4 separate regions of the Homo sapiens genome follow, and all the other regions are reported to be linked to region 1. Evidence: microRNA targets listed by miRTarBase, many of them from high-throughput screens and not tested one by one. Region 1 holds a microRNA gene; each other region holds the end of a gene's coding sequence. Distances are between the middles of the regions.

Region 1 (7,123 bases):
TAAAGATACGTGGAACTTTGAACTTGAGAGAAATTATTTAGGGCATCTGGTGGAAGAAATTTCTAAGCAGCAAAGCATTCAAGAGGTGGCTTGGTTGCTGTTAAAAGCATTCAGTTTTATATGTTCACAAAGATGTGGTTTGGAATTGGAACTTATGTTTAAAAGGATAGCAGGGCATAAAAGTTCAAAAAATTTGCAGCCCAATGATGCAATAGAAAAGAAAAACCCCTTTTCTGAGGAAAAATTCAAGCCAGCTGCAGAAATTTGCATTAAGTAATGAGGAGCCAAATGTTAATCACGAAGACAATGGGGAAAATGTCTCCAGGGCATATCAGAAACCTTCATGGCAGCCCCTCCTATCACAGGCCTGGAGGCCTTGGAGGGAAAAATTGTTTCATGGGCTGGACCCAGGGCCCCCCTGCTCTTTGCAGCCTCCAAACATGGAGCCCTGCATGCCAGCTGTTTTAGCTCCAGCCATGGCTAAAAGGGGCCAACATACCACTCAGGCTGTTGCTTCAGAGGGTAAGCCTTGGTGGCTTACATGTGGTGTTGGGCCTGTGGATGCACAGAAGTCAAGAATTGAGGTTTGAGAACCTCTGCCTAGATTTCAGAGGATGTATGGAAATGCCTGGATGTCCAGGCAGAAGTTTGCTGCAGGAGTGGGACCCTCATGGAGAACCTCTGCTAGGGCAGTGTGGAAGGGAAATGTGGAGTTGGAGCCCCCACACAGAGTCCCCACTGGGGCACCGCCTAGTGGAGCTGTGAGAAGAGGGCCATCATCCACCAGACCCCGGAATGGTAGATCCACCGAGAGCTTGCACCGTGTACCTGGAAAAGCCACAGACACTTAATGCCAGCTCATGAAAGCAGCCAGGAGGATGGCTGTACCCTGCAAAGCCACAGGGGAAGAGCTGCCCAAGGTTGTGGGAGCCCATCTCTTGCGTCACCTGGATGTGAGGCATGGAGTCAAAGGAGATCATTTTGGAACTTTAAGGTTTAAGACTGCCCTATTGGATTTAGGACTTGCATGGGGCCTGTAGCCCTTTTGTTTTGGACAATTTCTCCCATTTGGAATGGATATATTTACTCAGCACCTGTACCCCCATTGTATCTAGGAAGTAACTAACTTGCCTTTGATTTTACAGGCTCATAGGTGGAAGGTACTTGCCTTATCTCCGATGAGACTTTGGATTTAGACTTTTGGATTAATGCTGGAATAAGTTAAGATTTTGAGGGACTGTTGGAAGGGCATTATTGTGTTTTGAAATGTGAGGACATGAGATTTGGGAGGGGCCGGGGTGGAATGATATGGTTTGGCTGTGTCCCCACCCAAATCTCACCTTGAATTGTAATAATCCCCGTGTGTCAAGGGCAGGGCCAGGTGGAGATAATTGAATCATGAGGGCAGTTTCCTCTATACTGTTCTTGTGATAGTGAATAAGTCTCACAAGATCTGATGGTTTCATAAAGGGGAGTTCCCCTGCACACGCTCTCTCTTGCCTGCCACCATTAAGACATGACTTTGCTTCTCCTTTGCCTTCTGCCATGATTGTGAGGTTTCCCTGGCCATGTGGAACTGTGAGTCCATTGAGCCTCTTTCCTTGATAAATTACCCAGTCTCATGTATGTCATTATTAGCAGTGCGAGAATGGACTAATACACCCCATCTCTACAAAAAGTTAGCCAGGTGTGGTGGTGCACGCCTGTAGTCCCAGCTACTCAGGAGGCTGAGATGAGCCTGGCAATTGCTTGAGTCTGGGAATTTGAGGCTGCAGTGAGCCATGATGACACAACTGCATTCCAGCCTGGGTAACAGAGCAAAAAAATAAAAAATAAAAAGGTAGGAACTATTTTATTATTAACAGAGTCTGTCTTATTCTGCTGTTGTTGACATTTTACAGATCCTTTATTGCCAACTATCTGCATAACTAGATTTTAAGTTCCTTGTATGCAGAAGTCATGTATTATTTTTTAAAATTTTCCTTATATTGATCTGTTTTTTTTTAATAGTAAAGATTGTTGAATCTGAACATTAGATGACAATGTATTTGTCCAGCATTTCTCCATTTGAAATTATCTCACATTATTATGTGAGACTTGTTCATGTGCTTTGCTGGAGTTGAGACTTAGACAGTCTGTGTTTTTTTATTTAGCAAAGATAATCCAAGTTAAAATAGTGTTGTGTGTTCCTATAGGAAAACTAGGCCCAGTGTTATAACAGAGTGTAAGTAATAATAGCCACTAGGAGGTAAGTACCTGCTCTGTGCCAGGAGCTATGCTTCAGATTTGAGATGTTTTTATTTAATTGTCACACTGATTTTATTACATAGGGAACATTTAATAGGAGAACAAAGCTTAGGTAGGTTCAGTAATGTGTCCAAGTTCACACAGCAAATAAGTGGCAGAGTGAACTTGAACTTTGATTCTCTCTGAATCAGAACCTATTCCTTTATATGCTCTGTTGTATCCCTAGCCTGAGATCCACTAAGCAACTTTTTGAAGATGAGTACTACTGATTTCTTATATCCAACATGTATACATTGTCCAATGAAATTCTGCTAAAACATGGGAAATATAGGTCAGCACAATTACCAGTCATGCAAAATTGTATTTAATATCATAATTTGTAATGGTGAGGGGTGCTTCTTTGGGACATAGAATTTACAATGGCAATTTATTGACATATTTATTATTAACATTATTATATTTACATTCTCTAGGTACCCACATTTCACTCCTAGACACTTTTGCATAATCTCAATAACATCATAACATCTATAAATATTAACACTAATCCTGTAACATCACCTAACTTTTACCCGTATTCAGATTTCCCCACTTGTCACAAGAGTGTCTTTTGTTAAAAAACCCGGATCTAATCAAGTTTCACTCATTGTATTCGTTGCTATGTTTTTTTGTTTTAATTTTGATGGGCATCTTTCAGAAGTTTTAAAATAGTCTTAGAACCTCTTTTTAAGAACCAGATTTGAATAATTTATTTTATTGACCTCCTTGTCACTCTAACATTTCTTTAGTAAATACAGGCTTTGAGGGTAGGTATTGGTTTCTCTGTTTAAAAGTAGAAACTTTGCATAAATCAGCCCTTATATGTGTAAGTTTTCTGCCTTTTGGTTTCTTCTCATGCTGTTTCTGCACAAGTGCCTAAGCTTTTTTGAAGCTTTACTTGAGGGGTGACCAGAAGGTTTTACTTAAGGACACAGACCCTTAAATTCTGCAATGACAAATCTCAACTTCCATCTCAGGGTTGTAAGTGAAACCAGGATGCAGCCGTTTCTCTTTTCTCAGATAAGTTCAGGTTTGAATATAAAGTGTGACTATAAGATACAGAGACTGTCCCTAGAAAAGGAGGGGAAAACATTTTAGCAGTTCCTCTTTGGAGATAACTTTCAGTGCCTGCCCATCAGCCTCCAAGGAAAATGCTTTTTGGTTACTTTATAGGTTCTAGTGAACTTTGCTTACTTTACAATGTTCCCCAAAATGTCTGTTGAGATTAGTGCCTGAATTTCCACTGGGCTGACCAGTCTGTAGTTTCTTGAACATTTTCTTCCTATGCCAGTTAAAAATTAGAAGAAAATTGAAGTTTAACATACACATTCAGAAAAAAATAAAAAATCAGATTAATAAGAAACTAATGAGGCTGTGCCATTGTAAACTACTTGCAATAGAGTTTCCCAACGATGAACTGAGTATCTAGAAAATAACAAGGATTCTCAAGGAATTTTAGTGAAATGATCAGTACTGTATTGAAATACCTTGAATCAGACTTTGGAGAATAGATTTAAAAACACTCACAGCCTTAACCGATCTAGTAAGAACCTTATTCCCTAAAGCATACTGTGGATCTCAGCTGTATCCTATCTAAGGTGAGAACAGTCAAAGACAAATGTGGCCTTTGAGAAAGGTGGGATGTGAGTGTCTTGAAACAACAGGCTAAAGAAGTGCTCTCAAATAGAAGTATAATATGGAACATGTGAAATTAATTTTAATAATATATTTTAGTTAACCTAATATATCCATAATATTTTCATTTCGACATGTATTAGGTTGGTGCAAAAGTTATTGTGGTTTTTGCTATTTTTTTTTAATGGCAAAAACCGGCAATTACTTTTGCACTAACCTAGTAGTTACTACAAAAAAATATTAACAAGAGATTTTATGTTCCACTTTTTAATACCAGGTCTTCAGATTCTGGTGTGTATTTGATACTCAGAACACATCTCCATTTGAACTAACCATATTTCAGGTTCTCACTAGCCACTTGTAGCTGGTAGCTACTTTGATGGATTGCATAGGTCTAAAGGGAAACATCTTGAGAAAGAAGAAATAGGTTAAGTGCAAGAACAAGAATTAAAAAGGAAACTATTTTAGCATCATATTAGAAGGAAAGTACAGAAAGAAGTTGATTTAGAGAACCAACATCTTAATTCTTGATGAACTTATCGAGGAGGCAGATTGACAGCTGAGAGCAAGGTCCGGGAACCTTGCTCTGGCCTTGGGGACCGAGGGTTTGTAACCGTTGGGAGACAGGTGGCTGCAGTTTCAGTATGAAGTAGATGAGGGCAGGGAAACTGGTGGTGGTGTGGCTGAAATCAGTAAATCTCTGTCTTAAGGAAATAAGAGAAGTCACTAACTGGGACCGGCTAAGGGTGGAATCGATCAGGAAAAAAGAGGAATGGCCCCAACCAAGGCATCTGATGTTCTGGCCAACAGTGCAGGCTCTGGGGCCGACTGCCTGTGTCTGGACACCAGCTCTGCCCCTTGCTAGCTGAGTGAATGCAGTCAGCTGACCCTCTCAGTCCATTTCTTCATCTGTAGCCTGGTGCTTCGGAATCTTTGACCTTCTCTATCAACCAAGTGTCCAGCGGAGCAAACCACCTTACTTTGATAGGCGTGTTCTCAAGAAATAACTCCTTTCTCACTCTCACCCCAGATGTTCTTAGGCTCGCTCCCCTGCTTTTCTGGACTCTGCTCAGATGCCAACTTATGACTGCCCCCCATGCCATCCAACTCCTTTCCTTACCAGTACTCCTCAGCCCCCACACTCTGCTTTATTTTTCTCTATAGCACTTAACATCATCCAACATCATCCAAATAAAAGATATTTACTTTTTCATTTATTATGTTCTTCCCTCCACTGAAAAATAGACTCCAAGAGGGCTGGGATTTTGTCTGTTTTGTTCATTGCTATATCCTGCCTGCTTATTTCAGTGTCTGGCACATAGGCAGGACTCCATGAACATTTGATGAACAAATAAATGAATAATAAGAACTACCTCAGAGTTGAGTTGAGGATTAAATGAGTTAATACACAAACAGCTCTTGGAACAAGTGCTTGTCACATAGTAAGCCTGCAGTGAATCTTCGTGCTGCTGCTACTGTTAAATATTATTACTGAGGCTGAGCTGGCCTAGGGCTCCTTGGATTGGACTTGCTAAGAGCTAGGCAAGAGTCACAACTGTATGAAACTTGATTGAGTTAAAACAAACAGTGCTACTCCTCTTTATTATCTCCATGCCTGGTAAGCACATTTTCTACCCCCAAAATTGGGACTGACTAATATGAGAATATTTATGGCCTTAATAGGACAGGTTATTTGATACAATTACTAGCCTAGACATTTTAGGAGATTGGCCGCTCCTCAATACTATAAATGCATATATGGGTGTGTAGATAGAGATGTTGCTTCCCAGATTGCCACACATCCTGATACTGCAAGTAGGCATCAACTGAAAATGTGCCGTGATGTGAAGACCAAACGCAGAGAAGTGAGAGGGACAAGGCTGTGCTCAGTGACCCATATCCAGATGAGAAATCCATCTGCTCACTTGGGAGCAAAAATGCCCCAAGACCCTGCTATCTCTGGGCTTGCACGAGGCTTTAAATGAATCACCATTATGATGTCTTATATTCAGAGGGAAATACCAATATTCATATATTCAGGTACTGAAACTTTTAAGGGAATTTTTCTTTTTTCTTTCTTTTTTTTTTTTTTTTGGTCAAATGAACTTTTACTTTACCTGCTAAAATCTGCAGGCAGTGTGAGCCTTAAAATATTTTAGAGAGAGAGAGAGAAGTATCTTAAAATTACATTGTTTATTTCTAAGAACAAACTCAAGAAAACCCTTTCCTTCAAATCCCGGAAGAGTGATTAGCTTGTCTCTAAGGTATGGCATTGGCTGGGCATGGTGGCTCATGCTTGTAATCTCAGCACTTCAGAAGGCCCAGGGAGGAGGATCACTTGAGCCCACGAGTTTGAGATCAGCCTGAGCAACATAGTGAGACCTTGTTTCTACAAAAAATATAAAAATTAGCTGGGCGTGGTGGCATGCAACTGTAGTTCTAGCTACTTGGGAGGCTGAGGCAGAAGGATCACTTGAGCCCAGGAGGTTGAAGCTACAGTGAGCCACGATTGCACCACTGCACACCAACCTGGGTGACAGAATGAGACCCTGTCTCCAAAAAGAAAAAGGAAGGAAGGAAGGAAGGGGAGGGAAGGAGGGAGAGAGAGAGGGAAAGAAAGAGAAAAATAAAAAGAAAGAAAAGAAAGAAATGACATCAGTGAACCTCCTCAAACCATAGCGAGGCTGTTAAGTTTGATTGGGGCTGACATCCATGAGTGGGTACAAGTTTATCTGGTGTGGTGCCCTGCATCCTATAACACTTAGTTGGTAAAATCTACTTAAACTTGAGAGGGAACATCTCAAAAGGGACAGCTGTGGAGTTGGGAAGGTGGAGCCCGCAGGTCCTCCCATCTTGCTTTGGTGATGAGGCAGAAAGTGGGGCTGAAAAACTGAGTCTGTTTTGGTTGTATATGAGGGCTCCTGAGCCATTTTATTTTTAAGCTCCAGTTAAACTTCTTTCTCCATCTCTCCTTACGAAGTCCTCCTTCTTCAGCCAGGTTCCACAGCAATTTGGGATTTCACAAAGCCCAGGGTTTGGGGTGACTGTCAAATTTTGCTATTCTGTCAGGAAGCCTTATCTTTTGAACTACATTTAAGTTGTATTTTAATCATTTTAGTTAATTCATTCAACAGATATTTATTGAAAGTCCATATGCCAGACATATGGGGATACAGCCAAAAACAGGAACACCTTTGTCCTT
Region 2 (7,101 bases), not on the chromosome of region 1:
GGTCAAATTCTGTTTTCTACGGTAGAGACACAGAATTTGACCATTATTAGATCATTATTGCGAAGATTATTATTGTGAAGCAGGACAGTCAAGAGTGTTCTTATGAGGCAGGGCAGCATCTACACGATAGGTATGTAGTTCATGTATGTGGTGTCTACATATGCTTTGGTAAAATGAAGCTCTGTTGATGAGACAGCCACATATTACATTTCATCATTCTCAGGGATCCCACAGAGGCTGATGTTGTACAGCTTTCAGGATCACTCGAACCCTAGGCAGCGGTCTGAGGAGCTTCCAGCCACCTCTTAGTGAGAGCCTCAGGTGTGAGGACCAAGCGTTAGGATCCGCCCTTTTTTTTTTTTTTTGAGACAGGGTCTTGCTCTGTCACCCCGGCTGGAGTGGAGTCGTCCGATCACAGCTCACTGCAACCTCGACTTCCTGGGCTCAAATGATCCTCCCACCTCAGCCTCCTGAGTAGCTGGGAGCACAGATGTGTGCCACCACACTCTGGGCTAATTTTTCTACTTTTTTGTAGAGATGGAGTCTCAGTATATTGCCCAGGCTGGCCTTTTTTTCTTTTTTAAAATACTGTCATCCTGACTTGTTGAAACAAACCCTTTTCCTATTTCCATATTAATTTGTAGGGTTGATAAGTGCAATGTTCAATCACAATTCCTCTGGTTTTGTTTTTGGGCAGTGACTTGCATCTCCCCTCCCTCATTTTCATTCATTGAAAAGTTCTCAAGTGGCTGCAGCTAAAATCAGACACTTAAAATTAATGCAAGATTAAGATTCCAGGTGATGGCTTCTTCATGAGTCCATTTAAAAGTCTTCGTTGCAATAAAAAAAAAACACCACAAAACAAAAAACAGTGAAATCCAATAGGATGGTAAGCTAATAGGTCACGGAGTGGCGGGGGGGTGTCTTTTTATCCCCCGGGTTGGGCCTCAAGCAATAATTTTTGTGGGAGACAGGACAGGTATAGGCATGGAAAACCAATGTGAAAACCTGTGGTTCATATTCCCCGTGGTTGTGCTCTGGGCAAATGTTTGAGGAATGTCATTTGTTTCTGTTGTTGTTCTCAACTGATTTAGGAGAAAAAAGGCACTGATCCAGGAGCACACATTTTCTACCAGCTCTGAATAGTTTAAATTCCAAATAAAAACTCACATCCAGTGTGTTTATTACTTAATTTTAGGTCATGTTTAATTGAAAACACTCCATCAGCCTTTTGAAAGTAAATTTTGAGATCCAGCCAGTGGGGCTGATGATTTCCAGACAGCCTGGACAGCTGAGATTCGGAGCTCAGCTCACACGAAGAGGCAGACGATCAGCTGTGTTCGTGAGCAGTGCAGGTGTGCAGCTGTGAGACGGTCAGCTGTGCTCGTGAGCGGTGCAGGTGTGCAGCTGTGAGACGGTCAGCTGTGTTTGTGAGCGGTGCAGGTGTGCAGCTGTGAGGACATTCCAGGGTCATCATTACCAGCTGTGACCTTGTGCCCCTGACTCCCCGTCTTGGGTTCCTTTTCTTTAAATATGACTCATCAAATGAAAACCTCTCAGTGTTGTTGTGAGGATTAAGCCAAACAGTGCAAACAAAAGGCTTAGCACAGTACAGCGGTTTACAGTCAATGCTTTCAATGGCGCTAGCTGTGAACATTTGGTAACTGTAACCAGTTAACTTTCAGGGCTAGATATGACAACACATCCTGCAAATTCCTCCATTTTAATCTAATCAAAATATATAATGTGCAAAATACAAAATAAAAGAGGAACACAGTGTCTGCTTGGGAAGGCTTCCATTTACAAACAGCATGTTGAAAAAGTTCACTTTTGTTTGGAGGACTCTATGTTCCCATAGCAACAGTGCTCTAAGTGTGTGTGTGTGGGGCTTAAATTCCAAGGACTCACAAGGGCAAATTAACTCTTAGTTACGTGAAATATTGTGTTAGTCCTGATAGGGTTAAACAATGACTGTACTTGTAGTGAAACAAAGAAAAAATTGATATGAAAATAAGATTGAAATATTTTAAAATCCTGTGGCTCAAAGGAAAGCAGGATGAACTAGGGGCCAAATGAAGAAGCTGTGGGGCCTTGGGGTTTGAGACAGGGCACTTAATTAAATGTAACGCTGTTTTCCTTGGTGCGAGGGCCCCCATACTCATCTGTATTGTTCAGCCCTCAAGAGAATCTTCACTGGCTGGTAAACGAACAAGAATAGCTGGAGAAGGAATACTTCATATAGTATAAAAAAGACCCTTGGACAGGCATGGTGGCTCCAGCCTGTAATCCCAGCACTTTGGGAGGCTGAGACAGGACTGCTTGAGCCTAGGAGTTCTAGACCAGCCTGGGCAACACAGCAAGACCCAGGTGCGGTGGCACGAACCTGTAATATTAGCTACTTGGGAGGCTGAGGCAGGAGGACTGCCTGAGCCCAGGAGCTTCAGGCTCCAAGTGAGCTATGACTGTGCCACTGCACTCCAGCCTGGGCAACAGAGCGAGACCTCGAAAACTAGCAGGTGAGCAGGTTAAAGCTGAGTTCTCTGCTCTACTTTCAGAGTCTTTAATATGCTAATTTCTTCATGAGGTTCACAGAATGTCGTCTAAACCCAAGTGACCATAACCCCTTCCTTCCTGCAGCATCTCCAGGGGCAAGAGTTCTGGGAACACACCTGAGACAAGTCTCCTGCAATGCCAGTCTTGGCAAGCCCTCCTCCCGCTCCTCAGCTTCCCCTTCCAGCAGGCAACCTCCCCCAACACCCCCTCTCCTGCTTTGCCTTGGGCTACTTGTACTTAATCCGTCCAGAGGTTTTAGTTGATACTCTAATGTGATTTCTGCATTTCCATCTGAAAACCAAACAGATTTTTGACACAAAGGAAGCTTCATAGCAGGATTTCAGGCACCTTTATTCATGGCAGATATTTTTGGTCAGGGCAGCCTGCCTTTGAAATCGTTCCATTACTTGAGGAGGTCGACTCCTGCCTAAGTCACAACTCTCCTACAACCGCAACCGGCCATATCATTTCCATTTGCCACTTCCGAGGCTTGAGAACATCACCAGGGACGCAGGTTTCGGATGGTCTGGTCAATGCTGCAGTGTGTGTGGGGCATTCGGGGGCTCCAGCCTGCATCACAACCTACTGGCCTGATCAAAGGAGGTTCTGTAGTTGGGTAACCAGAGTGGTGAATTCATTTTATCACAGAAGGATCTCACTCCTTTATGTTCCCCATGTAATTTGTATACAGCACAAATTATTTCTTACTTTGATAGATTTGCAATATAAACACCAAGACTGGTGAGATGAGAAACTTAAAAAAATCATGTTTTTCAAATTTTCAAGTTTTTGTGTAAAAGCACTTTGTGGTGACAATCATATGGATCACCTTCCAGGTCATCAGTATTGGCCTCTAGGTTTAGCACTCCTGGCACTGCATTTTTGAGTGGCCAGAGATAAAGGTATTATCCCTGTCTTCTATAATCAATGATAACATTGACACTCTGCAAGAATTTAGATAAGAAACAGTTTAAGTAAAATAGTGTTTTTTAAAAACTTGAGTCTACTACAAGTCGTTGATCATATTCTAGCCAAGCAACTGGCATGGACTTAATATGGTCTCTTTTCCTTCTCTCTTTCTTTTCAAGTCACTAGCTCAAAGGAAAGACTGATTGAGTTTTAAAATCCTGCCAGATTTTTTATGGTAACCATTGTAGATGAACCACGTAGGTAGGGTCCTACTGAAGTATTAGAATCTCATGCAAAACTCTAACAAACGCCTCATTACAGAAGGCTATTCTGTTATTTTCTGTACTGTAAAAGTTCTGACACAAGACAGTGGCAGTGGTTACTTTTCATCGACTTTAGCATGTGATCTCAGGGACTCAGACATACGTCTAAGTTCTATTCTGAGTTTTGGCAACAGAGCAGTGACAGATATTTCTGAATGAACAATTTTTAGGTGTTTTCAGCCATTTGAAAAGTATTGCCAACACACTATTTGGTGTTAGCTCAACAGTCACGTTGTGCCAAGAATTAAAGAACTCTAAAGTCTACAAACATCTTACTTCACCAAGACTAACTATAATTGAAGGGTTTACTATTTGTTTAATAAAAAATCACACATCAACTTTTATCCAAACAGCAACTACTACAAAAGGAATGACAAGAAAAAAAATGACTTCACAGAAATACACTAAAAAATCTGACAATGTTATGCAAGAACCGCCAAAGTTTTAGTGTTTAATAATGAATAGCACAACTGACCAAGGTCCAAGATGTGAAGATACCATGTTCAAGAAACTGGGGGGAAATCACTCTACAAACTAACTATATACTAGGTGATAAGAATGCATACTTTATAATATAAAACCTGTCTACACATAGTAGTTAGCTGCAAAAAGCCATTCGATCTTCTCTTGGCTTGGAAAAATGCCAGATTCCAGTATAAATTATTAGCAACCTGTTGAAGAAGGAAAAATCATCAACATGTTTTTCATTATATGAGCACAAGTAAAAATGACATATAGACCTATCAACTACAAATCCCTTTCCACTCTCCTACTGAGTTAAACTTATTTTCTTCTGGCAATATTTTAGCAATAGATTTAACTGGAAATATCTTTAAAAGTTTCAGAGTCAGTTTCCTACTCCCACTCTTTTCTTTGAATGACCCCCATCACTAGCCAGTCTACCATCCTGAAATTCTTGTGGTAAGATAATCAGTCAGTTGATGGCAGTTTTGATTGCCACATAATATAAAAAGAGACCCACAGAAGCATCTGAGACTGGTAGGACATTTTTCCAAATTATCTCTGGATAAGAATAACGATGACATAACCCATAGAAAGCAGTTATGTGATTTACTCACACAGTGAATGAACCCCACCTACTGTGAAGATAAAAGCAAATTTTAGAGTCTGTCTTCAACATCCCAAATCTGTATTTCACAGTGACTTAAAATGTGGTCCACAGCAAGCCCAGAAAATAGGAAATTAGGCATGTTTTACTGTACATTCTGCTTAGTACTCTACGAATCTAAAAATACTCAGGAACCATTTTATTTTATTTTTTTGAGACAGAGTCTTGCTCTGTCTCCCAGGCTGGAGTGCAGTGGCATCATCACGACTCACTGCAAACTCTGCCTCCTGTCTCAGTCTGCCAAGTAGCTGGGATTACAGGCGTGCACCACCACACCCAGCTAATTTTTGTACAGACAGGGTTTCACCATGTTGGCCAGGTTGGTCTCGAGCTCCTCACATCAACTGATCTGCCCTCTGCCTGCCTTTGCCTCCCAAAGTGCTGGGATTACAGGCATGAGTCACCACGCACCAGTACCTTTTTTTTTTTTTTTTTTTTTTTGAGACAGAGTCTCACTCTGTCGCCCAGGCTGGAGTGCAGTGGCGTGACCTCGACTGCAACCTCCGCCTCCCTCAGCAACATTCATTTTTATAGAGAATTAAAATGTTATAAATGAAACAAGAGAAAAGTGAGTCTAAAACTTATTTTTCACACATACAGAGGAAAAGGATCACCATGCACTCTGCTGAGTGATTCTGTACATTTACCTATCTTGCTGTGTAGGTACTTTGAATTACTAGGCTTTCCTCTGACATCTGAAACTATTCAGAGGAAATTTAAATGAACTCCAGGGTAAAAGCTTAATGTGGCCACAATCTAGTTCACCTATGTCAAGTTACCAAGAAAGTCTCCAGAATTTAAGCCATTTAAGAAGGTGGTAATGTGGGTGACTTATCAGTTATTTCCATAAAAAAAAAAAAAAGCAATGGAAAATCTTCCAGTGACAGGCTTTATAGGCCAACAAAAAGACACCTTAATTATTAGCTGGAATGATAAAAACTCAGTGGTTATCTAATGTTAGCCAGTGGTCTTCACTAATAGTGACAGAAGTCTAATTAATAAAAACTGGGAAAATAAATTCGGTGTAAAGAATGAGTTTGGCATGAAAAATTTCAAAACATCAAGTCCACAGCAGGTAAACAATACAGTGATGCTTGCTGGGATCATGGCTGGGAACTGATCTACAGAATGTCTGACTACATACAAATTATACTTACAGGTTCTCTCTATTCTTTTAAGACAAAATAAAAAAAAAGACCGGGCACGGCGGCTCACACCTGTAATCCCAGCACTTTGAGAGGCTGAGGCGGGCAAATCACTCAAGGTCAGAATTCGAGACCAGCATGACCAACATGGAGAAACCCCGTCTCTACTAAAAATACAAAATTGGCTGGGTGTGGTGGCACAAGCCTGTAATCCCAGCTACTCGGGAGGCTGAGGCAGGACAATCGTTTGAACCCAGGAGGGCAAAGGTTGCAGGGAGCCGAGATCGTGCCATTGCACTCCAGCCTGGGCAACAAGAGCAAAACTCCGTGTCAAAAAAAAAAAAAAAAAAAAAAAGAAAAGAAAAGAAAAAAAAAATTGCCCCCTTCCTCACCTTCAACTCTTTTGCGTGGCAGGTATCTTGTTTTCACTTTCCAGTTCTTCCACCCCAGCCTGTGTCATGAGGTCCGCGATATTCTTTTCCAGATCATCAATGCGACTACTCATATCATCAAGTGCTGAAGTTAAAGACAACGCGTGCCAACATCTCATTGAGCCTTTTTCCTCCCGTCCCTGCAGACTACAGCCTTAAACACAACGACTTTAGGGAAACTGGTCTTCCAATTTTCTTTCGACACTGTTACACGCTGGTGGGTAAGAGTACAGGACTGTGGGGCATGGCTACCCCGCATCGGATTCCAGCCCTGACCCTTACTAGTGATGGAACCCCTAAACCTCAATTTATTCATTTGCTAAAGATGATAACACTACAACCCACTCATAAGGTCATGCTGAGCATCAAAAGACACACACAAAAGCGCTTAGTTCACAGTGCATGGTCCACCACACCAGCTATTAGGATTGGTAGACGTATGCTCCTTGAGCCAGGAGTCTAACTCAGCTTTGCCCCTAGCTCTCGGCGCAGTCCTTCTCAGAAACACAGTACAATCCAAGCTCAAATTCTACAAGTGAATGGCTGAAGCTAGCCTGAAAACTACTCATTTATCCCCACCACTGCCCGGCAAATAGGCTCCAAAGGCCCAC
Region 3 (7,121 bases), 69 Mb from region 1:
TAGTCATTTTTTTTTTCTCATTGCGTCCTTTCTCCCTATATCATGTTCCAGAGTTCCTTCTATTATCATGTCCTTCCTGTTTATAGAATTTCCTTTAGCCATTCTTTTTTGGGCAGGTCTGCCGGCAGCAAATTCTTCCCCCTTCATTACTGAAGGATACTTTTGCTAAGGTACCTGGATTAGCAGTTATCTTTCAGCACCTGGAAAATATTCTGCAACTTCTTTCTAGCCTCCATGCTTTCAGAATGAGAAGAAAGTATCTGTTGTTTAAGCTGTCTGGTCTATACCTTGTTATAGCAGCCTGAGCTAACACATTTATACTGTCTTTTATATTTTAACTATTCAGTTACCTTTTCCAGTGCTATTGCTTTGTGTGGATTCATGTTACTATCTAATCTTTCATTTCAGCCTAAAGAACTCCCGTTAGTATTTCTTGTGGTTAAGGTTTGCTAGTGATAGTCTTTGTTTTTGTTTATATGGGCATGTCTTACTAATTTCTCCGTTTTTGTGGAATAATTTTACTGATACAGATTTCTTGGCTATTTTTTTCTTTCAGTACTTGGGAATGTCATTCACTGCATCCTGGCCTCTGTGATAGCTTATTGTGAGAAGTGAGCTGTTAATCTTATTTAGGACCCCTTGTTTATGAATTGATTTTCTCATACTGTTCATAGTACTCTTAGTTTTGTGGATCTCTTTGAATTTATATGGTAGTTCGTTGAGCTTTTTAAATGTGCAGGTAATGTTTTTCATCAAATTTTTAAAGCTTTTGGCAATTATTTCTTCAAATATACACTTTCTGCCCCTTTCCCTCCTCTCCTTCTGGAACTCCAATTCTGGGTGCTAGTACAATTGATGGTGTCCTACATGTCTCTGAGGTTCCACTCTTTTTCACTCGTTTTTTAGACAGGATATTCTCAATTGGCCTGTCTTCGAGTTGATTATTTCTTCTACCAGTTCAAATCCACTGTTGAGACTCTAGTGAATTTTAAATTATGATTCTTTTATCTTTCAATCCACATTTCCATTTGGTTTGTTCGTAATTTATTGATATTTATTTGGTGAGACATTCCTCTCATATTTAGTTCAGACATGGTTTTTAGTTCTCTGAACATGTTTTTAAAAGCTGACAAAGTATTTGTCTAATTAGTCCAACATCTGGACTTCCTCACAGACACTTCTGTTTCTTTATAGGTCTTGTAATTTTCTGTTGAAAACTAGGCTTTTAAAATAGTCCCCCCTTTATCCTTGAGGGTATGTTCTAAGATCCCCCCACCCCGCCGTGGATCCTTGAATCCACAGGCTGTACCAAACCCTGTACTTCTTTTTTTCTACACCTACATATATGGTAAAGTTTATAAATTAGGCATGGTAAGAGATCAACAACTAATAATATACAATCATAATATACTGTTCACAATTTCATGAGATCTGTCTCAACTTTGACATAGAAAAAAGCTTTGTTCTTGTCATAGATCTTAGCAAATTCAGCATAATTTATGTTTTCTTTCCTTATTAAGTCAAGAACTCTTACCTTTTCACTTAAAGGAAGCAGTTTATGGCTTCTCTTTGGTATATCCAAATTGCCAACATCACTACCCTTGCAATGTGGGGCCATTAAGTAAAATGAACACAAACACTGCAATACCATGACAATCAATCTGGGAACCGTTAACAGGTACTAAGTGACTAATGAACGAGTAGCATATACAGCAAAGATATGCTGGACACGGGGATAATTCATGTCCCAAGTGGAACGGCACAAGATTTCCTCAGGCTACTCAGAACGGTGTACAGTTTAAAACTTATGAGTTATTTCCGGGATTTTCCATTTAGTATTTTCAGAGTGCAGTTGACCATGGGTAACAAACCACGAAGGCAAAACTGGATAATGGGGGAAGACTATAATACAATGTGGCAACTCTGGAAATGAGAATCCCTTTAGGTCCCCAGGGTTTGTTGTGTTTGCTGTTTAGTGGCCTTCTTTTGACTAACTCTGTAATGTTTGCATTCTCTGCTGTGACCACTGAAGTCTGCTTCATTAGCTTAGTGGTCAGCTAATAACTAGACAGATTTCCTTAAATGCTTTGAACCAGTAAGTCTCTGTCTTGCTAAAGTGCTCTGTCTGGGATATGCCTTCAAAACTCCAGCATGTAGTTTACAACTGTGGCTTACCTTTCACTTCCTGCTGGCACAGAGCCTCAGGGTCTGCTACAGGTGAGGTTAGTGCCTTATATTTTTTTCTTGGGCATGCCAACAGTCTTGCACAAATGTGTGGCCTTCGAGATTCCCAGGAACATAATGGAACTTTTCAAAGCCCTCTACATTTCCTACTTTTTAGTCAGCTGCTTTTTAGGCCCACATGCCTCAGGCAACTGCTGTGTTAAACAACGGCAGGAACGATTTTTTACAAACACCATGAAGATAGAGCTTTTTAAGCAAAGTGAGCTGAGTCCAGTCAAAGACACGCTCAGAGAAAAAGAGCTTTTCAGTGAGGTTCCAGAAAGGCCAAGAGTGATAATTCACTGGAGTGTGATTTTTGGGGAGTTTTGAGGCTATTTTGGGGGAAACTTAAACTTTTCTGAATAGAAATGGGAATTTAAGAGATGCCTTTTCTCACTTGGCATTTCAGTTACTTCACATTTAGTTATCCAAATCAGAATCCTGAGCCTTTGTCTTCTCAAATGTACACAAAGGAAATACTGTCTTCCTAAGGTTCAAAGGGTTAGAAATGATATAATGCAAAATTTATTACAAAGCTAAAGTAATCAAAATAGTGTAGTACTGGCATAAGGACAAACATATAGACCAATGGAATACAACATCCAGAAATAAACCCTCACATATGATTTAGAACAAGAGCACCAAGATCATTCAGTGGAGAAAAGGCTAAGAAAACTGGATATCCAAATACAAATGAACAAAGCTGGACACTGACCTTTCACCATATACAAAACTCACAATGGATCAAAGACTAAGAGCTAAAACTATAAAACTCTTAAAAGAGGAAAATCTTCATGACATTGGGTTTGGCAATCTTCTTGAATATGACACCAATAGCATAGCCAAAAGAAAAAAGACAGATACACTAGACTTCACCAAAATAAAAAAAATTCTGTACATCAAAGGACACTATCAAGGGAATCAAAAGAAAACCCAAAGAATGGGAGAAAATATTTGCAAATCATGTATCTGATAATGGATTACTAACTAGAATAAAGAATGCCCACAACTCAACAATAACAGAACCCAGTCAAAAATGGGTGAAGGACTTGAATACACATACACATTTCTCCACAGAAAATACACAAATGGCCAGCAAGTACAGAAAAAGATGCTCAGCATCACAAGCTGTTAGGGAAATGCAAATTAAAACCACAATGAAAGGAGACATCCAGTAAGACAGCTATCATAAGGATACCCATTAATATAGTTATTTTAAAAAGAAGAAAAGAAAATAACAAGTGTTACAGAGGATACGGAAAAGCCAGAACGCTTGTTCATTGGTGGCAGGAATGTAAAATAATGAAGCTGCTATGGAAAACAGTTTGGAGTCCCTCAAAAAATTAAACATAGAATTATCATATGATGCAGTAATTCTATTCCTTCATATATACCCAAAATAACAGAAGGCAGAACTCAATTATATACTTCTATAATAATGTTCACTGCAGTATTATTCACAATACCAAAAGTCTCCATCAACAGATGAATGGATAAACAAAATGTGGCACATACATACAATATTATTCAGCCATAAATAGGAATGAAATTCTGATATATGCTATCACATGAACCTTGAAAATAATGTGTGATTCCACAGGTGCCATGAGGCACCTAAAATAGACAAATTCAAAAAGAGAAAGTAGAATAGAGGTTGCTAGGGGTTAAGAAGAAGAGAAATGCATTACTTTAATTGCACACAGAGTTTCTGTTTGGGGTGATGAAAAAGTTTTACAAGTAGACAGCGGTGATCATTACACAACATTGTGAATGTACCTAACCCCACTGAATTACATGCCTTAAAATGGTTAAAACTGTAAATGTGGCTATGTATATGTTACCATAAAAAAATTTAGAACTAAGTACCCAAAGCCTTCACACCACTTGTGGTGAGCCTTTTCTTCCTCAGTTGAGATAGTGATAAAAGAAATTACTTAGGTAATACTTTTTGAAACCCTGGTTGGTAGTGATGGCCAATAGCATCGCCTCTCCCCGTACCCCAAAACACACATCCACACACACACAAAATACACTCAATACCCTATCAAATACCTAGAATTATATTTCACAAAGGATTACACAACCAATAATTTCACTAATGATGCAGTTTATATCCTCCCATACTGACAGATAAAAACACATACATTCTCTAAGCACAAAGCTTATAGTCACAAATAACTCTCTGCTTAAAGACAAAATTTCAATTAATCACAATGGGAATTTAGTTATTTAATGCAACTACTAATCTAATGTCATCAACAAAATCTAAGCAGTTTTATCACAAAACCAGGGTTATATTCAGTGGGCATGCATTAATAATCTATACAACTTTAACATTACACCAGAAAAGGAATTGAATATATAAAAGTTCCCTTGATTTTTGGTGGTTTTCAAATTTCATGGCACAGATTACAAAAAAAAAAAAAAAAAAAAAACCCTGTAAAAACAGATTTTAAATATTTTCCATAAAATGGTAAAAAATTGAATATATACCTTTAAGTTTTCATACCGGGCTGAAGATTTAAAACATCAAGCTGGCCCCAATCTGTCAAAACTGACAGATAAATATTTACAATGACTAGACAGACTTTAGTTACAAAGGTACTGGAGGTCTACACCCTATTGAAAACCCTTTAGGGTTAATTTCTCAATGCAAACATGTCTTTTTAAATACTGTGATATATAAAGTTGGAAATATACCTAGAGTCTGGAGAGAGATGAAATATAACACCCAAGTCAATCTTATTTCTGATCTGTCAACAAAGCTTTCTGGCTCCCAAACACCCAATATTGTTCCTCAATATAAAAATTAAGAACAGTAGAATGACTTTACCCTACTGGCTGACGTTTTTCTACAGAATTATCTTTCACTACATATTAAAGCAGGGCTCAAGCTCTATTAACCTTCTACAGAGTGTAATTAAAAGAGCGCCAAATTTATAAACTGATGTGGCAACCCAAAATGATATAATTTTCCAATGGAAACAAACTTTTTTCCATTGTTCTGTGTGCCATGTTATTCTTGAAACTTATGTGGCTACAAATAAGAAAAAAATTAGGGAAGCTTTGAACATATCTTGTACTTTTCATCAAGGCTAAAGTGCAAAATATCTCCATTATCTCTGGTATTTTAATGGGGAAAAACATCACATATAATACAGGAAATGAAGTGACAGCAGAACTAATACAAAAAAAAGCACTCTCAAACGTATACTTGAAGACTATATTTTACTACCAATTTAATTTTTCTTTCTTCAGCAGAATATGTCAATGAACCAAGTTCTCATAGAACTTAAGATTTTGTTTGATTCTTCCCAGGACCAGAAATTCCAAAATTACAGGGAAAAAGAATGGAAAAAAAAAAACATTGCATGACAATGGACACTAAGTTCATAAAGAACTTCTTTTTAAAATGAGATATTATGGAAGAAAATACCATGAAAAGAATAATCCTATGAGAATTGTTTTTAAGGACAGTAAATTTGAGCCTTGGGTCTTCATGAAGATACTACAGTTTATATAGAAAACTATAAATATACAAGACTCCGGGGGAAAAAAAAAGTCAGAATACATAATATTTAACATTCTGTATGACTAAAAATCTTTTGAGGGGAGCAGGAAAAGGACAGCCAACTGAATCTTATAAGAATACAGAAACTATGAAAAATTCCTGGGTCAAAATGGTGCTCCAAGTGGAAACACACTTTGTGGGGAAAAAAAAAAACACAAGAAACTTCAGATATATTTTTTTAAAGGAAAGAAAAAAATACTGAATAATTGCAGTCCCTTCCAAAAAGGAAATCTTAAATAAAGGGGAAAAGATTTGAATAGCGTAAACTAGTCTGGCTCAGAAAGAAAATTGAACAACATATCCAAGATCTGTCCATAAAAGTAATGCCAGTACATCTTTAATATTAAAGAAATAGGCTATAAAAAAGTTCAGTCTCAGAATTGGTTTTTAAAGGCTCATTTGTGCTCCTTTGTAGGTGCGTAATAAAGTTCCATGGGTTTGTTCACTTTCCAGTATTTCTCACTGACCAATTCCAAAGAAAAAGAGCCATTTAATACCTAAAACAAAAAAGAAAGAAAAAATTATGAAAACTGCACAAACCACAATAATAATGAAATGAAACTAAAATGGAAGTCCACAGAATCTTTTTTTTTCAAATCTTAGGAATAACTACTTGTCACTTAACACTGTTACGGTTTTTTACATTATTTATTAGATTCTACCCCACCACTTGCCACTCAGTTAGTTGGTCAGTGTGCTCCCAGTTTCAACAGTCTATTATTTTAAATACTCACAGTGAACTGGCCACTGGCTGTTGCTATATAAATGGTATACTGCTTCTCACTGGCTGTATCAAGGTTCATCTGGTTTGATTCACCTTTGCTTCGAAGTTCTTCTAAAGCTAACCTCACAGCCAGATACTTGGATAAGTGATCAACAGTGGCGTTACCAGAAGTCTTTATGTATCTAGAAGAATAAATCATTAAAAATTTCATTTCTAGAATATGCCAATGAGAAAAATGTACTTAAATTATGGAACTAATACATTTCTTAAAAACTAAGTAAAATGGCAATGTCTCAATTATTGACAAAATAATATCAGAAATTTACTGCTCTACAATCTAAATTTCTTATTGATAGGTACAGAAGAGGGGAAAGTAAATACTCAATATCTTACTGTCAGGTCACAAAAGCTTTACCTACCTTACCTTCTATAAAATGAGATACACAGTGACAAAAATCAAACAGAAATACACAAAGTACTAAGGGGAAAAAAAGGAACATACCCCCCAAACCCTAATGACCAGAATCTGCTGGCTATAGCAGCAACAGAAACAGAATAGAAGCAAATTTCTTATTGTCTAAGAATTAAAATGTCTTTTAAGAC
Region 4 (7,123 bases), not on the chromosome of region 1:
GATCACTTGAGCCTGGGAGGTCGAGGCTGCAGTGAGCCATGATTGAACCACTGCACTGCAACCTGGGTAACAGAGCGAGACCCTGTCTCGAAAACAACAACAAAAAAAGGAGTTATCTTTTTTGTTGTTCGTTTTTGAGACAGGGTTGCCCAGGCTGGAGTGCAGTGGTGCAATCATGGCTCACTGCATTCTCTAACTCCTGACTCAAGACATTCTCCTGCCACGGTCTCCCAAAGTGCTGGGATTACAGGCATGAGCCACCACGCCAAGCTCATTTTTCATAGTTTATAAACAGTCTGGAAAAAATAGGAAGAATTCTAGAGACTAAATATTCAAATTTCGGATACTAACATGTTGCATATATTTTCCTGTTCTATTAAAGGATATTGCTCTAAAAACAAGAGAAATCTTTACCAACCTAGCACCGTTTTCAGAAGTTTCGGCTGATGGAGAAAAGAGAGTCCTTAATTTGGAGGCGCTAAAGCAAAAACGATTTCCACCAGCAACAGAAAACTTCCTTTATCATCTAGCAGCAGCCGAACAAATGCTGAAAATCTGACTGTGTGACAGAACGTATCACTGATGACTGATAGAAAGCCCTCTTTCACTCTGATTACCCACTCACTACATGAAGTCCTGAAAATAACAGAGAAACTGTTATATCTTTTTAATGATTTATTTGCAAGTATTGAGATTTGACCTGAAAAACAATGAAACACATGAACACACTTCCGATTTTCTCCTCGCTGATTAGCTTCCTGCCTGCTGTCAGTGCTGGACGAAGTGCTATAACTACTTTATGTAACATTACAGAACAGCTAGAGGTCCTGGGGTAAGAGAAAAAAAGCACATCACAACAAATGTGAAAGCCTTCATTATTACACGTTCCAGTTTGTCTCGCTGTGTAGGCATAAGCTAATGGTTTATTTTCAGAAAGCTGCCTGAAACGTTGCTTTGTATTCTTCTAGGAAGAACTTTAATTCCTCCTGAGGAACTCTACTTTCTGAGCCAAACTGCTAATTTTCTGCGGAACTGTCTAGAAGATCATTCAAGAGACCCTGCAGTTGCACTTTCTCGTAAAAGTTAAAAAAAAAAAAAAAAAAAAAAGGTTTTTCCCGGCCTTTGAACATTTTGCCTATGAGAGTTTTGCATATATTTTATACTTGAGTAGACAACTTTAATAATCCATATTTATACTATCGCAGAAGTAAGCATTTGGCAAACGTTCAGCCATTAGCACTCATTTAACCCTGTTAGCAATATTCTTTTGAAAAAAGTGCCAGTCCTTATGTGATAAACTAAGAAGCCCATTGAATATAAAAGTGTGTAGGACTGAAACAGTGACCTTATATTATTGCTAAGGGAATATGAGATTAACTTCCTACAGGGGCCAAAACCAGAGAAAGGCTTCCAGCAACTTCGATGAAAGTAGTTTGGCCACATGTCAAGCCAATTGTTTGTACTATTTATGTACCTTTTTCATAACTGGAATTGCCAAATAAGCATGGAGATCTAAATGATGTACTTGTTAGTGTATTCATTCATATTGACTGTAAAGGATTATTTTTCACTCAGTACTGATGTCCTTGGAAATCTTACCTGGAAACATGTTTGCAAAAAACATTATTGGGTCTTTCATCTTTTTCTTGGTATTACATATTTGTTCAATAAAAATTAAACACCCTCCCTTTTTTTTGAGTGAGGGCAGGGAGTACCTGAAATAAGACAATGTTTACTAAGGCAAATAATTGAAAATTAAATCTGCACTTTATGGAAATGAGGAATATTAACATCTTTTTTCTCATTTTTTTGTATTACTATATTAGCTAATGATCAAAGTTGTTAAAATTATAAATTTATGATGCAGAAATAAAATTGATATATTTTGATATTCAACTACTTTTAGGTGGGTGACGAATTGTCCCCTCTTTCTCTAATACTGCTCATTCCAAAGAAAATGGGGAAAAAATACCTTTTTTCAACTGTGAGGGCGCTAGGGAATTATTAAAAGACCTGTCTGAAAGTTCAAGACGGCCAAGGGCGCGGTGGCTCATGCCTGTAATGCCAGCACTTTGGGAGGCCGAGGTGGGCGGATCACCTGAGATCAGGAGTTTGAGACTAGCCTGGCCAACGTGGTAAAACCCCATCTCTACTAAAAGTACAAAAATTAGCTGGGTGTGGTGGCACATGCCCGTAATCCCAGCTACTTGCTATTTGGGAGGCTGAGGCAGGAGAATTGCTCGAACCAGGGAGGCGGAGGTTGCAGTGAGCCGAGACTGCACCATTGCACTCCAGCCTGGACAAAAGAGCGAGACTTGGTTTCAAAAAAAAAAAAAAAAAAAAGTTCAAGCCGTCCCCCACACACCCTTTCCTCCCGCCCTAGCCCTCCTCCACTCGCCTTCCTGGAGCTGCCTCTGTAACTTCAGTCTCCTGTCCTTGGAAGATGCCTTCACATTTCTGTCATCTGTTAGCGGTTAAACCTCCACCTGCAGCTGTTGCCCATCTTGTTCTCTAACTTTAATTTTGGTTAGTGTCAGCCTATGGTCAAACTGAGCCATTTACTGATTTTGTCCTTTTAGGCTGTTATGAAACTTTCCTCACCAAATTTGGAAATGAACCATCATACTGGCCTTGGGGAAACAAAACCACAGATAAATTCTTTGGTAATGTGGGGTAGGGTGTGTTGGAAGCATTAGTCCAGTACTCAAATGTTGAGGTACCTACTCTGTGCCATGCCTGTGTTGTATTTTGAACTACCCTGATGGGCAGCAGCTCCCGCTCTCGCGGTGCTGCGCACAGTCCGCTTGGGGAATAGGGTCAGCAAACAGGCTGCTGTAGTGTGGCTAGTGCTAGGCGTGATGTGTGAAACAGAGTGGTATTGGAGCACATAGATGGGGACCCAGTTCAGTGCTGTCAATCCTGGAAGGCCTCCCAGAGGGAGTGATCAATGTCAAAGTCAGGCCTGAAGCATTAAGTAGACATCTACTCAGACCAGAGGAAACAGCTGTGTGAAGGCCCTGAGAAGAGACCACAGCCCATGTGAGGACCTGGAGGGTCTACAGGGAGGGGAGGGAGTGGCAGGATACGAGTATGGGAAAGGCTTGCTGTGGTGAGGAAGGTGGGCTTGATCTTGACGCACTGGGAAGCCATTTAAGGCTTTTCAGGCCCGGTGCGGTGCTCAGGCCTGTAATCCCAGCACTTAAAGAGGCCAAGGTGGGTGGATCGCGGGGACAGGAGATGACAGCCTGGCCAACATGGTGAAACCCCATCTCTACTTAAAAAAAGCAAAACAAAAATTAGCTGGACGTGGTGGCTGGTACATGCCTGTAGTCCCAGCTACTCAGGAGGCTGAGGCACAAGAATCACTTGAACCCAGGAGGTGGAGGTTGCAGTGAGCCAAGATCGCGCCACTGCACTCTACACTCCAGCCTGGGTGACAGAGTGAGACTCCGTCTCAAAAGAAAAAAAAACAGTTGTTCAGCAGGTGTGGTTTAGAAGAGCAGGCTGGAACGTGGACCGGAGGGAGTAGGCAGGAGATGGGCCAGGCAGTGCCAGCAGGGGATGCTGTTGGACTGCGCTGGGTGGTAGCAGTGGGCATATGTGGGTTCCAGACTCCATGTACTGGGCCCTGTCTACTGCATAGGCTGGTAAGGTGGGGAGAGGGCGCCTCCAGTGATCCTGTCTGGTGCACCTGGGGAGGTGGTGGTGTCAATTCCTGAGACTGGGAGGGAGAGCTGATCTCAGGTTCGGATGGGTTGAGTTTGAGGTGTCTGGGACATCCAAATGGCAAAGTACAGCCAAGTAAGCAGCTCAGTGACCAGCCTGAGTGCCCAGCAGTGTGGCAGTGCCACATTCAGGTGGGTCACGGATGAGAGAAATCTTAGCAGAACGGGAGGTGGGGTGGAGACAGTGAGGGCGGACAACTCTTTTAAAGTGTCTGGCTACAGCCAGGCGTGGTGACAGGCGCCTGTAGTCCCAGCCACTCAGGAGGCTGAGGCAGGTGGGTCCTCATTGAGCCCAGGAGTTCAAGGCTGCAGTGAGCTGATTGTGCCAGTGCACTCCAACCTGGGTGACAGCAAGATCCTGTCTCTAATGAGGCAGGTGACAAGCAGTTTATTTCTTTTTGAGACACAGTCGTTCTATTGCCTAGGCTGGAGTGCAATGGCATGACGTCAGCTCACTGCAACCTCCGCCACCAGGGTTCAAGTGATTCTCCTGCCTCAGCCTCCTGAGTGGCTTGGACTACAGGTGCGCAACACCACGCCTGGCTGATTTTTATATTTTTAGTAGACACGGGGTTTTACCATGTTGGCCAGGCTGGTCTCGAACTCCTGACCTCAGGTGATCCACTGACCTCAGGCGATCCACTGACCTCAGGCGATCCACTGGCCTCAGCCTCCCAAAGTGCTGGGATTACAGGCGTGAGCCACCGCGCCTGGCCGACAAGTAGTTTACATACTTCTGGGAAGGACCTGGCAGACAGAGGCTACAGAGCACAGCCCTGAGGAAGCAGAGAGAGGCCCAGAGCCTGGAGGACGCTGGCATTACACGGAGGAAGGATGGGTGTGGGTGCGGGTGTGGGGGGCTCCACTGCTGACCTGTTTCCTGGCGGAGGAGGCAGGGTCCTTTGCCAGAGAGGAGAAAGGAGGCACTGGGCGGAGGGCGGCAAAGGTTTTAAGTAGCTGTCTAGAATGGAGGACACTGAGTAAGGAAACAAGATTGCTTTTGGGGTTGGAGGGCGTAAACAGCGCCCCAGGGGTACGTGTTCCGCTTGAGACGGCCTATCCATTTAACACCTGTGTCCTGGGCACGGTGGACTCTGTGTTCTTTCTTCAAATCCTCAACTTGAGACAGGTTTATTAGTTAATTAGTGATTTCACAGTATCCTTTCGCAGGCCGATCCCCACTCCAACCGTTCCCTCAGCAACCCCAGGGGTGTCAGACGGGGCACCCTCCCACTGTCTTCTCCAGCCAGCCTTAAAAACCCCAGAGACGCCAGCCTGGGAACGATCTCAGTATGGAATCTGAAGTCGCCTTGTCAGCACAGACACCTCTGGGGTCCCCAGAAGACCTGTGGCAAAGTTCTCTAAACCGAACCTGGAGAGGGGAAGGTTTTCAAGCAGGAACCACATAAATTCACCTAAAACTCACGCCTACACCCCTCTGTGATAAAAGATTTCTGTTTCTTCTGTTGGAGACTGAATTTTCTCTTCAAGACTACAGTACTGTATCTGAAAAATAGTTAAATTCATAATGTTTCTATTAATAGTTTTTCTTGCCTTAGAAGCCAAGTTAAAAAAATCATTTTCTGAAAGCAACCATTTCACAGTCCATCTTTTTCAATAATGTCTAATCTATAGCAGAAAATGTAACCTATTTTTTTTTTTAATCACCCAAGCAGTAAAGAAACTTCTTAAACTTTTTTTTTTTTTTTTTTTTTGAGACAGAGTCTTGCTCTGTTGCGCAGGCTGGAGTGCAGTGGCACCATCTCAGGTCACTGCAACCTCCACCCTCCAAGTTCAAGTCATTCTCATGCCTCAGCCACCCGAGTAGCTGGGATTGGGATTACAGGCGCGCACCACCATCCTTGGCCCATTATTGTTATTTACTTATCTCTACATTTGTTTATAATTGAAAGTTTCCATTAAAAAGTTTTAAGATGGCTGGGCACAATGGCTCATGCCTGTAATCCCAACACTTAGGGAGGCTGAGGCAGGTAGATCACTTGAGGCCAGGAGTTCAAGACTAGCCCGGCTAACATGGTACAAAAAATACAAAAATTAGCTGGGTGTGGTGGCACACACCTGTAATCCCAGCTACTCCAGTGGCTGAGGCACGAGAATCACTTGAACCTGGGAGGTGGAGGTTACAGTGAGCCGAGATCAGGAGGATTGCTTGAGGTGGGGAGTTTGCAATCAGCCTGGGCAATATAGTGGGACCCTATCTCTACAAAAAATAAAAAATTAGCCAGGTGTGGTAGTACGTTCCTGTAGTCCCAGCTACTTGGGGGGCTGAGGTCAGAGGATCACTTGAGCCTGGGAGTCAAGGCTGCAGTAAGCCATGATCATACCACTGCCCTCCAGCCTGGGCAACAGAGTGAGAAACCCTGTCTCAAACACACAAACAAACAAAAAACAAATGTAGAAGGAATGTAATGAACTCACATGTGCTCACTCAGGAATCACTATTAACAATTTGCAGATCTCATTTCATCAAGCACCTCCCACACCCAGCAGTAGGATTTTTTTCCTTGAGTATTTTAAGGCAATTCTCATGTCATGTCACCTACAAGTTCCAAATGATAAAGACCTTATCATTATTGATATAGTACTTGATATAGTAATGACAGTAGTTACAAAACTACTATGTCATTGTCACACCTAACAAAATTAGTAATAACTCCTTATCTCATCTAAGCACCTCCATGCCCTCCTTGAGCCAACAGGATATTTTGTGTCTTTTTTTTTTTTTTTTTTAAATGAGATGGAGTCTCACTCTGTCACCCAGGCTGGAGTGCAGTGGCGCGACCTCGGCTCACTGCAAGCTCCGCCTCTGGGGTTCACGCCATTCTCCTGCCTCAACCTCCCGAGTAGCTGGGACTACAGGCACCCGCCACCACGTCCAGCTAATGTTTTGAATTTTTTTTTTTTTTTTTTTTTTTGATATGGAGTCTTGCTCTGTCGCCCAGACTGGAGTGCAGTGGCGCGATCTCGGCTCACCGCAAGCTCTGCCTCCAGGGTTCACACCATTCTCCTGCCTCAGCCTCTCGAGTAGCTGGGATTACAGGCGCCTGCCACCATGCCTGGCTAATTTTTTTGTATTTTTAGTAGAGACGGGGTTTCACTGTGTTAGCCAGGATGGTCTCAATCTCCTGACCTCGTGATCCGCCCGCCTCGGCCTCCCAAAGTGCTGGGATTACAGGCATGAGCCACCACGCCCGGCCCCAACAGGATATTTCCAAAGTCCAGCAAGCAAGTCTTGGCATCTGAGGTCACGCGTGAGACTGACTCCCTTTCCTGCCTCCACTCTGGCCTCTGGGAGTTCTGCCCCTTCCAACCTTGCATGACTTACCTGCTGCCCTGCTCCTTGGCCTGGCTGTGCAGGCCCTGCCACCTGGCCCCCA

What was found. The annotated mature microRNA hsa-miR-548ac reads CAAAAACCGGCAAUUACUUUUG and lies in region 1 at 4,110-4,131, shown strand. An mRNA with a match to its seed (bases 2 to 7 or 8) in the 3' UTR can be bound and repressed. Matches are read on the target gene's strand: a 7mer-m8 pairs with bases 2 to 8, a 7mer-A1 pairs with bases 2 to 7 and ends in A, and an 8mer does both.
Region 2: the mRNA of HSBP1 is a reported target of hsa-miR-548ac. Seed matches in the 3' UTR shown: 7mer-A1 at 3,544-3,550 and 7mer-A1 at 1,160-1,166.
Region 3: miRTarBase lists RNF2 as a target of hsa-miR-548ac. Seed matches in the 3' UTR shown: 7mer-A1 at 4,664-4,670, 7mer-m8 at 4,654-4,660 and 7mer-A1 at 4,355-4,361.
Region 4: the mRNA of DENND10 is a reported target of hsa-miR-548ac. Seed matches in the 3' UTR shown: 7mer-m8 at 1,108-1,114.

The regions. Positions count from the first base shown.
Region 1 is chr1:116,557,046-116,564,168 of GRCh38, reverse strand. MIR548AC (microRNA 548ac) reads left to right here and starts at 4,058; the gene lies at 4,058-4,145. The region is part of intron 1 of CD58 (CD58 molecule); the gene reads left to right. LOC105378925 (a long non-coding RNA gene) reads right to left here. Exons shown (of 3, transcript XR_947739.2): 3 at 2,982-7,123. RefSeq lists enhancers at 1,502-1,651, 4,251-4,490, 5,542-5,591.
Region 2 is chr16:83,808,776-83,815,876 of GRCh38, reverse strand. It overlaps HSBP1 (heat shock factor binding protein 1), which reads right to left. Exons shown (of 4, transcript NM_001537.4): 3 at 6,452-6,572; 4 at 1-4,456. The coding sequence ends at 6,454. Among named protein-coding and RNA genes, the nearest start is that of HSBP1, 4.3 kb to the right of the region's middle. RefSeq lists enhancers at 1,414-1,925, 1,926-2,437, 2,438-2,949.
Region 3 is chr1:185,099,370-185,106,490 of GRCh38, reverse strand. It overlaps RNF2 (ring finger protein 2), which reads right to left. Exons shown (of 7, transcript NM_007212.4): 6 at 6,529-6,700; 7 at 3,888-6,291. The coding sequence ends at 6,190. Among named protein-coding and RNA genes, the nearest start is that of TRMT1L, 54 kb to the left of the region's middle.
Region 4 is chr10:119,136,089-119,143,211 of GRCh38, forward strand. DENND10 (DENN domain containing 10) reads left to right here. Exons shown (of 9, transcript NM_207009.4): 9 at 383-1,896. The coding sequence ends at 559. It overlaps SFXN4 (sideroflexin 4), which reads right to left. Exons shown (of 14, transcript NM_213649.2): 14 at 4,679-5,231. The coding sequence ends at 5,154. Among named protein-coding and RNA genes, the nearest start is that of SFXN4, 26 kb to the right of the region's middle. RefSeq lists an enhancer at 6,359-6,860.